Homo sapiens: one gene and its partners. The protein of the gene in region 1 purifies or fractionates together with the protein of each later gene. This does not show direct contact. Each region holds a gene or a part of one and is shown in the gene's direction. Other genes may lie near its edges.

Region 1 (5,119 bases):
GACCAACCTGGGACAATTAGTGAGACCTAATTTATACAAGAAATTAAAAAATTAGATGAGCATGGTGGCATGCACCTGTAGTCCCAGCTACTCAGGAAGCTGAAGCAGGAGGATCGCTTGAGGCCAGGAGGTTGAGACTGCAGTGAGCTATGATTATACCATGTACTCCAGCCTAGATGACAGGGCAAGACACTGTCTCAAATAAAAAAGTAGATTTTGTTTATTCACAAATTTTTTGACCAATTCTATTTTTTCCTCCACAGATTTATGTGGGAATATTCCACTAATTACGGACAAGCTCCTCTGTCACTTTTAGTCAGTTACACCAAGAGTTATCTTTCTATGGTAGGGTCCTGCTGTACCTCTGCAAGCCCAACTGTATGCTTTTTGAAAGAGGTATGTCCCATTTTACTTATTATATGTTTACGTTTTTTTCTTCTAATAGCATTCCTTTTAGATAATGGTAGAAATTGAGATTTTGCAATCAGTAAAAGTTTCTAAAATGCCACCCTTGCATCTTCTTAATTGGAAAATAAATGTAATACCTCTGGAAAAGTAATATCAATAAGTTCCTTTCACCAGTGTTCAGTTTCCTATTCATTAAAAAATCATGAAATTAATAGTCCCTATTTTTGCCATTTATACAGTATTCAATGAGTCTTGACCATATAATGAGATTCTTTCACTTGTTTTCTAGAGACTCCAGCTTAAACATTTATCACTTCTCACCACTCTGTCAAATAGAGTCTGCTCACAATATGCTGCTTATGGGGAGAAGAAATCAAGGCTCAGGTAAAGATTAAGTGCTATTGTCATATTTAGATGTTTGGTTCTGCACTGTCTATCCATAATATTAGGGTTTTTTTAAGAAGCTGTCTATATTGAAAGATATAAAATAGACTTTTCAGCTCCAATAATCTCCAAAAATCTGGCCAAATTCTCGTTTTCTTTTCTCTATACAGATTATGAAAAATAAGGAAAAAGTTTATGTCATAAAACATGAGATTTGCTTTTAATCAATCTTTTCCATATAGTTGACCACTAGAAAATATTTTTTCAGTGTTCATATTAGCATATGTTACAAACAAAAAAGCAAAACAAGAACAAAAACAAACCAAAAAAACACAACCTTTTGTTTATTACCTATTATTTGCCTTGCCCAATTTTTCTTGGAATGAGACATCTGAATTCTTACTTGTTGTATGAAGACTTGTGCTATACAGTATATATCTCTTGCCCTTCATTAATTTATTCTCATTAGTTATCTACCTTTGTATTAGTCTATTTTCACTCCGCTGATAAAGACATACCCGAAACTGGGGAATTTACAAAAGCAAGAGGTTTAATTGGACTAACAGTTCCACATGGCTGGGGAGGCCTCACAATCATGGTGGAAGGCAAGGAGGAGCAAGTCACATCTTACGTGGATGGCAGCAGGCAAAGAGAGAGCTTGTGCAGAGAAACTCCTGTTTTTAAAACGATCAGATCTCATGAAACTCATTCACTATCATGAGAACAGCACAGGAAAGACCCACCCCAATAATTTAATCACCTTCCACTGGTTTCTTCCTATGACATGTGGAAATTGTGGGAGTTATAATTCAAGATGAGATTTGTGTGGGGACACAGCCAAACCATATCATCCCACCCCTGGCACTTCCCAAATCTCATGTCCTCACATTTCAAAACTAATTATGCCTTCCCAACAGTCCCCCAAAGTCTTAACTCACTTCAGCATTAACTCAAAAGTCCACAGTACAATGTCTCATCCAAGACAAGGCAAGTCCCTTCTGCCTATGAGCCTGTAAAATCAAAAGCAAGCTAGTTACTTCCTAGATACAATGGGGGTACAGGCATTGGGTAAATGCAGCCATTAAAAATGGGAAAAATTGGCCAAAACAAAGGGGCTACAGGCCCCATGCAAGTTCAAAATCCAGTGGGGCAGTCAAATCTTAAAGGTCCAAAATGATCGCCTTTGACTCCATGTCTCATATCCAGCTCACGTTGCTGCAACAGGCATATTCCCATGGTCTTGGGCAGCTCCACCTCTGTGGCTTTGCAGGGTACAGCCTCCCTCCCAGCTGCTTTCAAAGGCTGTCATTGAGCATCTGTGGCTTTTCCAGGTGCACAGTGCAAGCTGTCAGTAGATCTACCATTCTGGGGTCTGGAGAACGGTGGCCCTCTTCTCATAGCTCCATAAGGCAGTGCCCCAGTAGGGACTCTATTTGGAGGTTCCACACCCACATTTCCCTTCTGCACTGCCATAGCAGAGGTTCTCCATGAGAGCCCTGCCCCTGCAGCAAACCTCTGCCTGGACATCCAAGTGTTTCCATACATCCTCTGAAATCTAGGTGGAAGTTCCCAAAACCCAATTCTTGACTTCTGTGCATCCGCAGGCTCAACACCACATGAAAGCTGTCAAGGCTTGAGGCTTACACTCTCTGAAGCCATGCCCCAAGCTCTACATTGGCCCCTTTCAGCCATGGTTGGAGCAGCTGGAATGCAGGGCACCAAATACCTAGACTGCACACAGCACGGGAACCCTGAGCCTGGTCCAAGAAACCACTTTTTCCTCCTAGGTCTCCAGGCCTGTGATGGGATGGGCTGCTGTGAAGACTTCTGACATGTCTTGGATACATTTTCCCCCATTGTATTGGGGATTAACATTCAGCTCCTTGTTACTTATGCAAATTTCTATAGCCAGCTTGAATTTCTCCTCAGAAAAAGGGCTTTTCTTTTCTCTCACATTGTCTGGCTGCAAATTTTCTGAACTTTTATGCTCTGCTTCCCTTTTGAAACTGAATGCCTTTAACAGCACTCAATTCACCTCTTGAATGCTTTGCTGCTTAGAAATTCCTTCTGCCAGATATCCTAAATTATTTTCCTCAAGTTCAAAGTTCCACAGATCTTCAGGGCCGGGGCAAAATGTCACCAGTCTCTTTGCTAATACATAACAAGAGTCACCTTTGCTCCAGTTCCCAAAAAGCTCCTCATTTCCATCTGAGACCACCTTAGCCTGGACCTTATTGTCCATATCGCTATTAGCATTTTGGGCAAAGCCATTCAACAAGTCTCTAGGAAGTTTCAAACTTTCCCACATTTTCCTGTCTTCTTCTGAGCCCTCCAAACTGTTCCAACCTCTGCCTGTTACCCAGTTCCAAAGTCACTTCCACATTTTCGGGTATCTTTTCAGCAGCACCGCACTCCTGGTACAAATTTACTGTATTAATCTGTTTTCATGCTGCTGATAAAGACATACCTGAGACTGGGCAATTTACAAAGAAAGAGGTTTAATTGGACTCACAGTTTCACATGGCTAGGGAGGCCTCACAATCATGGTGGAAGGCAAGGAGGAGCAAATCATATCTTACATGGATGGTCGCAGGCAAAGAGAGAGCTTGTGCAGAGAAACTCCTGTTTTCAAAACTATCAGATCTTGTGAGACTCATTCACTGTCACGGGAACAGCTCAGGAAAGACCCACCCCCATGATTCAATCACCTCCCACCAGGTTTCTCCCACCACCTGTGGGAATTGTGTAAGTTACAATTGAAGATGAGATTTGTGTGGGGACATAGCCAAACCATATCAACCTTATATTTGCAACCTTCACTTTGATTTTTGTATGACTACTGTTAACTTGTATTTTAATTTTGATAGTTTCTATGCTGCACTTCTCTCATACTTTCTCAAACATCTAGATTTGCCAACTTTTTTTCCCTCCATACTTACAGTCTCTTTGATTCCTTCTACTATCCTCACAAGTTTTTTTCCTCTAATGATAATCAAAGAACTTCTTGCCAGCAATGCATAATAAGCTTCCGTAATGGGAATAGAAACTACTTTCTTGTCCAGGCACGGTGGCTCACACCTGTAATCCCAGCACTTTGGGAGGCCAAAGCAGGTGGTTCACAAGGTCAGGAGATCGAGATCATCCTGGCTAACACGATGAAACCCCGTCTCTACTAAAAATACAAAAAAAAAAAAAAATTAGCCAGGCATGGTGGTGGGCGCCTATAGTCCCAGCTACTCAGGAGGCTGAGGCAGGAGAATGGCATGAACCTGGGAGGCAGAGCTTGCAGTAAGCCAAGATTGCACCACTGCCCTCCAGCCTGGGGCGACAGAGCGAGACTCCGTCTCAAAAAAAAAAAAAAAAAAACTAGTTTCTTTAAATATAACAGTTCCTCAGAACTACTTGAATACTCAATGACAGTTTCTCTAGTCCTTTCTTTAGTTTTCCTTTTACGTAGAGATAGTAGTTTGACAGGCAGAACAGAGGGAATTTCTAATATAAAGCCACCATATATATTACTTATATAATCATTAAGTGATACTTGTATTCATGTCCAGAAATGTACTTCAAGGAAATAGCATTTGCTATGAACAGATTTAGCTATCTGATAAGGGTTTAATATTCGGAATATATAAGGAACTTCTATAAGTCAATAACAAAAAAACAAGTAGCTTAATTAAAATAGGGGTAAAAGACTTGAATAAACAATTATTGAAACAAAATATACTAATGTCCAATAAACATATGAAAAGATGCTCAACGTCACTAACCTTAAGATACATGCAAATCAAGTCTACCGCCATACCACTCTGAACACGCCCAATCTTGTCTGATCTCAGAAGCTAAGCAGGGTCAGGCCTAGTTAGTATAATAATTGGATGGGGGAAATGCAAACCATAACTACAGTGAGGTATCACCTTATACCCATTAGGATAATCACTATCAAAAGAACAGAAATTGGCAAATGTTAGCAAAGTTGCATAGAAATTGGAACGCTTGTACACTGTTGGTAGGAATGTAAAGTGGTTCAATCATTATGGAAAACAGTATGGAAGTCCCTCAAAACATTAAAAATAGAATTAACATGTAATCCATCAATTCCACTTCTGGGTATATATCTTAAAAATTCAAAGTGGGATCTCAAAGAGATTTGCACTTCCATGTTCACTGCAGAATTATTCACAATAACCAAGAGGTGGAAGCAACCCATATGTCCATCAACAGATGAATGGATGAAGACAATGTGGTATATACATACAATGGAATATTATGTAGCCTGAAAAAAAAAGAAAATCCTGTCACGTGCTACAAGGATGAACCTTGAGGA
Region 2 (4,309 bases), on another chromosome or scaffold:
GTTGTGGATATGTTTGTCAACACTGATAGTGTTGCAGATAAATGTGCCACAGGAGTGTCTGGGTACAGAGCTAGAGGCATGTGTGTTATAGTAATAGTGACTGGATTTGCACAAACTGAGAGTGTGTAATGTGCAAAAGGACAGCACATTGTTGTCCACAGATGGACTGAGAATGTGTAGGGCCACAGGAGGATATCGTATAAGCACAGTAGATAAAAAATGTGTGTAAATGCAGAGTGGCAGTATCTGGGGATGCACAGTCAAAAAGAGAGTACTTTTGAATGCAGGGGGACAAAGTCTGGGTATACCCTCCTGAAAAGAAGGAGAAAGGATACCCAAAGTTGCTCCAAGATGAATTTCCTGGAATCCCATCCCCACTGGATGCAGCTGTGGAATGTCACCGTGGAGAATGTCAAGCTGAAGGCGTCCTCTTCTTCCAAGGTCAGTCCAGGCTGGAATCCAAGAACCTGGAGTAGTGGTGGGTTGGTAGTGATGCCAGTAGTGATGGTGATAGTGGTAGTGATGGTGGTGGTGGAGCCACTATGTGGCTTTTTAAGGAAGGGAAATAGAGAAGCCACGTATGGTCTAGAGGTCACGTGAGGGAAGGAGAGGAAGTCATTCTGGTGAAGGCAACTGTGTGTAATTCTGTGTGAATAGTCCCTCATTGTTCCCCATGACCCTTAGGACAAATCTACCCTCTTTAGTCTTACATACAAGTCTCTCCATGGCCAAATCCCTATTGGCCCTTCAGCTTTGACTTTTATTATACTTTTACCTTAACACTAAGCTCCAGAAACCCTATGCTATTCTCTGTACACTCAGTTTGCTCCATGCTTTGGAATCTTTCCTCTCTCTGGGGTTCCATCTCTCCTTGTGTGCCTTTTAATTCCTACTTCAGATTTCACTTTAAGTATCATCTTCCCTGGGAAGTTTTCCCAGACTCTCCCCACTGCCTTTGCTGAGCTGATCCTGTGTGTTTTGCTGCTGAATTTTGGTGTATGATCACCCTCCTTTAGCCATCTCTCTGATGGCTGTGAGCTCCATGTGGTCAGTACCATTATCTGGCCCATCCTGGGACCCAGAGAAAGCACAAAGGAGGGCGTAACCCGGTCTCACCAAATGCCTGTTGATTGATTGGACAAAGGTGACCGCGAGTGGTTCTGGGACTTGGCTACGGGAACCATGAAGGAGCGTTCCTGGCCAGCTGTTGGGAACTGCTCCTCTGCCCTGAGATGGCTGGGCCGCTACTACTGCTTCCAGGGTAACCAATTCCTGCGCTTCGACCCTGTCAGGGGAGAGGTGCCTCCCAGGTACCCGCGGGATGTCCGAGACTACTTCATGCCCTGCCCTGGCAGAGGTGAGAAAGCCCTAGCACTTGAGACCTGTCAGAATTCATCCACTTTCCCTGAGCTTGTGGATCTCACGTGTCCTAGCTCTCACTTTAACTCCGTGTTGCGACACCTTGGCCCTTAATCTAGCCCCATTTCCATTCTGGATTTTCCCATTGCCCTCATATGGGGAAACCCACACCCCACTAACCCCAGCCATCTCTTCCACCTTGGACCTCACTCTGACCTCTGGCCTCCTTCTGTGTTCTCCTCACCCATTTCTCTCTCCAGGCCATGGACACAGGAATGGGACTGGCCATGGGAACAGTACCCACCATGGCCCTGAGTATATGCGCTGTAGCCCACATCTAGTCTTGTCTGCACTGACGTCTGACAACCATGGTGCCACCTATGCCTTCAGTGGTGAGAGATGCCCCCAACTCCCCCAATGTGCTCTCACATCTCTTTTACTTGTATCTCCCATCCTTGACACATTTCTCCATTGTCATCACTGTGTCACTTATTTTGTCCCCTCTGTCCCCATCCTTCTGCATGCCCTTCTGCATCCCTCATCTCTGAGGCATATTTCTCAATCTTGTCTGTCACGGCCCAAGCCCCTAACTTCATCTACCTGTCTACCATCTACTCCCATGGCTGTGCCCCCTGTGGACCTCTCTGGGCCCCTATGACTCCTTGTGTTCTCCTTGCTCAATGCCCTGCTGAGCCCTCTGGCTCTCCCTTGCTCCCTGGACCTCTATGTGTCTCTGTACCTCCTTGCCTCCCTTTGTTCTTGCATATCTTTCTGAGTCCTCTGGCTCCCCCTGATTTATCCTCAGAACTCCATCTTGTTTCAGGTTCCTGGTTCCTATGTCCAGACCCCTGGGCATAGCACTGCCTGGGGATGAGATGTTCTCATTGCTGAGAACCAGCTGAGAAGTGTTGGGTACTTTAGACCTTTAGAGGCTGGCTTCACTAGCCTCTGGAGGTTTCTCCTCTGAGTAGCCAATGGAGATACCCCTCCCTTGACCCGTGGCATCAATTGGTAAAAGCCATCTAATAATACCTAGGGCTGTTCTGAGTTCAGTCAGGCAGTAAATAGTCATGCTGCACAGTTGAGAATATCCCCAAGAGGAGTGAGCAACCACATCACATCCAACCTGAGATATATGTATAATTAGGACAGTGGTAAGAATATAAAATCGTGAAAATATTTTTTTCACACAAAATTTTTTTGGCTCCTGACCCTTGGACAAATTTGACCAGTTATGACTATCAAGTTCTGTTGAAAAATACATCACCACATGGAGAGCAAATCTCCACAGCAGGATTGCACACTATAATAAGAACATACAGCTAAGATGAAACACACACCTGTAGTGAAAATACAACATTAAACTGAGAACATACGCCATAGTAAGAACACATAAGTATCAAGAGAACACACAGCCATGGTGGGAGCCCATTGGGAGGACACACAGACAAAGTGAAATGCAGAAAGAGAGAGAGAGTGAGTGAGAGATTGTGAAAACAGGGCCACAGGAAACACACAGAAATAGAGAGAGACACCAAGCCATCTAGAGATCACAGAACTTCAAGGCCATGTGGCCATAATGAGAATGCTACTGAACTCCTAAATGAAAAATGTCATGTATGTTCCATAGCTGTTGAGAGAGCCCACAGCATGGAGAGAACACCTTATATTAAAAATACCCAGGCCGGGCGTGGTGAGTCACGCCTGTAATCCTAGCACTTTGGGAGGCTGAGGCAGGTGGATTGCTTGAGCGGCTTGAGCCTAGGAGTTTGAGACCAGCCTGGGCAACATGGCAAAACCTCATCTCTACAAAAAATATAAAAATTAGTCGGGTGTGGTAGTGCGTTCCTATAGTCCCATCTACTTCAGAGGCTGAGCCCGGAAGGTCGAGGCTTCAGTGAGCCGTGATCGTGCTACTGCACTCCAGCCTGGGTGACAGAGTGAGACCATGTCTCAAAAAAAACAAAAACAAAAAACAAAACAAAACAAACAAACAAACAAAAAACCCATATATATATATATATACCTAGCTGAGGTGAGAATGCACTATTTTGGTAAAATCACCAACATGACCCAGCTACAGCATGGGGCAGTCCCTCCCCTCTCACTGGTAAATTTTTCTTTCTCTGACTCACAGTTTTGTTGTTGTTGTTGCTGTTGTTTGAGATGGAGTCTCACTCTGTCACCCAGGCTGGAGTGCAATGGCGCAATCTTGGTTCACTGCAACCTCTGCCTCCTGGGTTCAAGCGATCCTCCTGCCTCAGCCTCCCGTATAGCTGGGACTACAGGCGCATACCACCATGCCTGGCTAATTTTTGTATTTTTTTTTGGGTTACAATGTACTATTTATTAATTTAATTTTTGTATTTTTAGTAGAGATAGGGTTTCACCATGTTGGCCAGGCTGGTCTCGAACTCCTGACCTCAGGTGATCCGCCTGCCTCGGCCTCCCAAAGTGCTAGGATTACAGGCATGAGCAACCACGCCTGGCCCCTCATAGGTTTTTATCTATTCTCTTTGCTTCTTCACAACTTTGGCTTGCACGTGGACCATCATGTTCTCTCCACTTTCTCACTACTTCATGATCTTTCAGTCTCAGTTCCAACTGATACCTCCCTCAGTTGCTCTTTTTTCCTAGTAAGATTTCCAGAGAGGGAATCTGAATGGCCCAGTCCATATTTTCAGACCACACCACATTAAAGTGGTTGATTGCCAGCCTATGTATTGGCTACATTAATGGGTTGGGAACTCATCATTTACTTCATTGCACAAAGCAGCATAGCTCTGGTTCTCAAAATAGGGCCCCTGGGCCAGGTGTGGTGGCTCATGCCTATAATCCCAACACTGTGGGAGGCCGAGGGGGGCAGATCACTTGAGTCCAGGAGTTCTAGACCAGCCTGGGCAACATGGTGAAATCTCATCTCTACTAAAAATACAAAAAATTAGCCAGG
Region 3 (4,309 bases), on another chromosome or scaffold:
CTGATGGACACCTTTTAAGGGGCTGTTGGTGATGTGTGGTTAAGTGACCCTAAGGGGGCAAGGACAGAATCTGGGGTCAGTTAAGGACCACTGCAATAATCTGGGTAAAATCATCATCATCATCATCATCATCGAGATTTGGAATATGGTGGAAGCGGCTGAAGTGGTGAGATGTTATCATATTCTGGTTCCATTTTAAAGGTGGTACTAAAAGGACCTGCTGGAAAATGGGCACTAGGGAGTGTTAGGGAAGAGAGGAGTCAAGCATGACCCCAAGGTTTTGGGCACTGACCACTGGTGGAAGAGCAGGTTGTAAAGGGGTGTGGAAAAGAGAAGAAAATGTTATTTTGCAGCTTATGAGAATAAGTAAAAGCAGAGATGGCCAGACAGTAATATGTGCAGGTGGTGAATCAATACTTTATATTCTAGTGAAATTTTCTGCTTAGAAAAAGGGTGAGGACATAGGAACAGCTCAGACTGAGGCTTGAAGAAAAAGTAAGACGTCTACCACATCACTTGAGACCATCTCTGTTGTCTTGCTTGATTCTCTAGTGAATGTCTGTTGGACTCTGGCAGGTTAGTGTGATAGCATGAATATGTAATGGTGTGGTCTAAATAAATGGGATGGAAAATGAGTGTGGCTGGGATTGGTGAGTGGGCATGGCCAAAAGTTGAGGCCTGTGAGCAGTTGCACAGGAAGCCCTGAGGTGAATGGAAACGCAGATCAGACTGGAGAAAAGCCTAGAGCACATGGGAAAAGGGTAAGAGCCTTGGCAAAGCAGGAGGGTGAAGCAACTGGTCGTCTTCAAAATGCCAAGGCCGAGGGTGTGGTTATGTCCTGTATGTGGGAGTAGTGACAAAACAGCACATGGTGTGATAGAATGAGATGGACTGGAGGGGGAGGTAAACATAACTGTGTCAAGTCGGTGACTCATGAGATCAAGAGGTCTAACGGCTCCTCGCCAGGAATCATGAGCTCACTAAGGATGATCATGAGAGAGGACAAGGAAAGGAAGCCAATGCTGAAGCTGAGGGAATTACACAAAATAGTCCAGATACACACATGCAGAGATTACGGGAAAGGTGCCAGCCACTGGGGAAAAATCACTTGGTATCTGAAGAGAAAAAAGTATATTAGGAAAACACACTTCAAGCTAAGAAGAGATTGGTTGCAAAGTTTTTTCAAATTGTAATATTGAAGTACACACCTCCTAGCTTTGTGGTATGGCAAGTGGGTTATAGCTAATTTAAAATTAACCCAAAAAATGACAAAATTTTGTCTTCCAGTTCATCTTAAAACTAAATTCCTGAAAACAATCTTGAGTACCACAATTTTTAAAAACTAATTACACTGACATTTCCAGTTCCTGGGTCCTAGTTATCAAGGCTGTGTGTGTGTGTGTGTGTGTGTGTGTGTGTGTGTGTGTACAATATAAACCAAATACAACCAGATCCATTAACACTTGATGAATTTAGGTGAAACTCTCACTTACGTATGGAAAATCCCAGAAAGATCTGGAGCTGGAACAGAGGATTCTGCTTGTATTCCATGGGCTTATTATTCAACTGTGGATCAAGTTAAGGTAAAATACAAATCATTTGTTTTGTGACACTTCCCAAAATAGACACACAATTGAAGGAAGACAAGGTTAGTGTTTTCCTGTGGTCCAATTCTACGTTAAAATCCTAGGAAAATAAACTGTTTGCAATCTACTTTAGCAACTATGCTGCTACCTATGACACACAAGACAAAAATCTAACATTTCCTAATATGATACAGCTCAAAGGCCTTTCAAGATATTTGGGAAGTTTAGATTTTTGTCTTGTGGGTCACAGGTAGCCACTGAAAAATTGACCAAGAATGGCAGTATATTTGCATTTCAGATCCTTCATTCTGGTGGAATGAAGGAAGGCTTGGAGGGGGAAGAGACTGGAGGTTGGGAGGCCGTTGTAATACGTGAGGCAAATTTCAAGGACCTCTACTGTAAGGAGGGAGAAAAGAAATGGAGTCGGTTATAGATAGGTGGGTGAAGTGCCTGAGTGAGCCGGGGGAAGTAGCTCCTTGATAATTCAGTGTTCTGGCTCAAACAAATGAGTAAATCTGGTATTTGTGGTCCTATTTATTATTACACATTTCATTCATCTATGGATTTTTAGGGACTGCCATAGCGCTTGGCTCACACTCAAGAGTTCATGAGTTTATGGAACAAACCAACACTGTTCATTTGGGATTCTTTTAAAATCACTGCTCATTAGCTGAGCTAATTTTTGCCTCTGCAGACATTTCTGTTATGTCAGCATCACCCACATGACCTACCTACTACTCACCATTGTTCCAATTTAACTACTTCAAGTGAAAAGTTACTAAATTGGCAGTACCACATTGGGCAAAGTCTGTTACTTCAATTGGTCTCTCCAAAATTCCTGAGGCCCTGGGTGCAAAGTCTCAGTTCTCTGAAATCCTGACCTAATTCACAAGGGTTACTGAAGATTTTTCTTGTTTCCAGGACCTCTACAGTGGATTAATTGGCCCCCTGATTGTTTGTCGAAGACCTTACTTGAAAGTATTCAATCCCAGAAGGAAACTGGAATTTGCCCTTCTGTTTCTAGTTTTTGATGAGAATGAATCTTGGTACTTAGATGACAACATCAAAACATACTCTGATCACCCCGAGAAAGTAAACAAAGATGATGAGGAATTCATAGAAAGCAATAAAATGCATGGTATGTCACATTATTCTAAAACAATTTTTCTACTTTTTTATCATTTTCTCTTTCAAATAAAATTATTTTGGAGACCATTCATTTGTTTTGTCTTAAAATAAACCACTTCTGCCTCACTTTGTATGTCAGGTAGAATCCTGTTCAAAACAAAAAGGGGACTATGTTCAAAATCATTTGCTAATTTATTTTCCAATTCCAAAATCTCATTTCCTTTGAAATAATCCAAAACTAAGATTAAGGCTTTTGGTGCAAAGTGCCTAGAAAAGCAATGTGATATTATTGACTTTAAAGTATCCATTTCTCTCATTTGTAGTAAAATAAGTCCTATTACATCAAAAAGATTCTTTACATTAACCTAATAATCATATTTTCTTTGAAATAGCTATTGGTTTAAAATATCCTGAAAAGTAACATAAAACCATATGCTTTCCCTAGCTATTAATGGAAGAATGTTTGGAAACCTACAAGGCCTCACAATGCACGTGGGAGATGAAGTCAACTGGTATCTGATGGGAATGGGCAATGAAATAGACTTACACACTGTACATTTTCACGGCCATAGCTTCCAATACAAGGTAAGAGCTATCCATGGCAATTACTCTTGCTCTGTTTGAAAATGTTTTAATACAAGTGAAGAAAATATTTTCTCAGAGAGACTTATGAAAAAAAGCTGCAAAGAGTACAGCCGGTGCTTCATATCCGTGGATTCCCCACCCAGGATTCAATCATGGATTGAAAATATTCAGGAAAAAATAATTCCACTAAGTTCCAAAAAGCAAAACTTGGATCTGCTGCACTGAGTACTATGTTGAATCCATGCAAATGAAATGATATGTAGGCACTGTATTAGGTATTATAATAATCTAGAGATGATTTAAAGTATATGGAAGGATGTGCATAAGTTAAATGGAAATATGCCATTTTATATAAGGGACTTGAGCATCCATGGATTTTGGTATGGGGGCATTCCTGAAACCAATCCTCCATAGATACTGAGGGATGCCTATATAAGGCACAGCAATTTCAATTGACACACTAGCCTTTGTTACACATTGAGCTCTTCCTAGGATTTGCATTTTTAACTGAATTTTCATGGAGTTCTGCTCAGATTCCTGATTAAGGCAACTGAGCGGAATTGCTAACAAAGAGGGTAGGAATGTTCACATAATGATGGATGAGAGTAGAGACCACAACAAGACTTTATTATAACCCTTGCCCTGCCTGTTCTAAGTTCTGTATCTTAAATGGCCCATGGTGAGCAAGATCAGTTAGGTGACAAGCAACTGGTCTGTACATCTCAATCTTACTTCTATTCTTTCTCAGTACTGATTTCAGCAGAAGCCAGTGGCCCTCCTGGAAATGCTTTTTCCTTATGCTTTGGGCTAATTTAGAAAAGGCAGAAGTTATCAAAAAGCATACTGCAGAAAGCCTGTTTTGTTACCTGCATTTTGTTTTACATAGATATATTGTATTCTTAGTGGGCTTTCAATTCTATCCTTGCAGAAATAGACTATTGTCACCCAACTACTGTTTCCAGCCGAGACTCCCTGAAGTGCCTCTGGTTTTTGTCGTTTTCATCAGCCTC

Evidence for each region. The genes of interacting proteins can lie anywhere in the genome.
Region 2: the proteins of GC (region 1) and HPX purify together in Homo sapiens (affinity purification with mass spectrometry, with the first as the bait; one large-scale study listed by BioGRID). This does not show direct contact.
Region 3: the proteins of GC (region 1) and CP purify together in Homo sapiens (affinity purification with mass spectrometry, with the first as the bait; one large-scale study listed by BioGRID). This does not show direct contact.

Annotation. Positions count from the first base shown.
Region 1 is NC_000004.12:71,759,081-71,764,199, reverse strand, and holds part of GC (vitamin D-binding protein isoform 1 precursor), read left to right. Parts: intron 1-263; coding exon 264-396; intron 397-697; coding exon 698-792; intron 793-5,119. UniProt on the Homo sapiens protein: Involved in vitamin D transport and storage, scavenging of extracellular G-actin, enhancement of the chemotactic activity of C5 alpha for neutrophils in inflammation and macrophage activation.
Region 2 is NC_000011.10:6,434,488-6,438,796, reverse strand, and holds part of HPX (hemopexin precursor), read left to right. Parts: intron 1-287; coding exon 288-441; intron 442-1,144; coding exon 1,145-1,357; intron 1,358-1,619; coding exon 1,620-1,751; intron 1,752-4,309. UniProt on the Homo sapiens protein: Binds heme and transports it to the liver for breakdown and iron recovery, after which the free hemopexin returns to the circulation.
Region 3 is NC_000003.12:149,176,830-149,181,138, reverse strand, and holds part of CP (ceruloplasmin precursor), read left to right. Parts: intron 1-1,476; coding exon 1,477-1,583; intron 1,584-2,507; coding exon 2,508-2,724; intron 2,725-3,159; coding exon 3,160-3,299; intron 3,300-4,309. UniProt on the Homo sapiens protein: Multifunctional blue, copper-binding (6-7 atoms per molecule) glycoprotein. It has ferroxidase activity oxidizing Fe(2+) to Fe(3+) without releasing radical oxygen species. It is involved in iron transport across the cell membrane.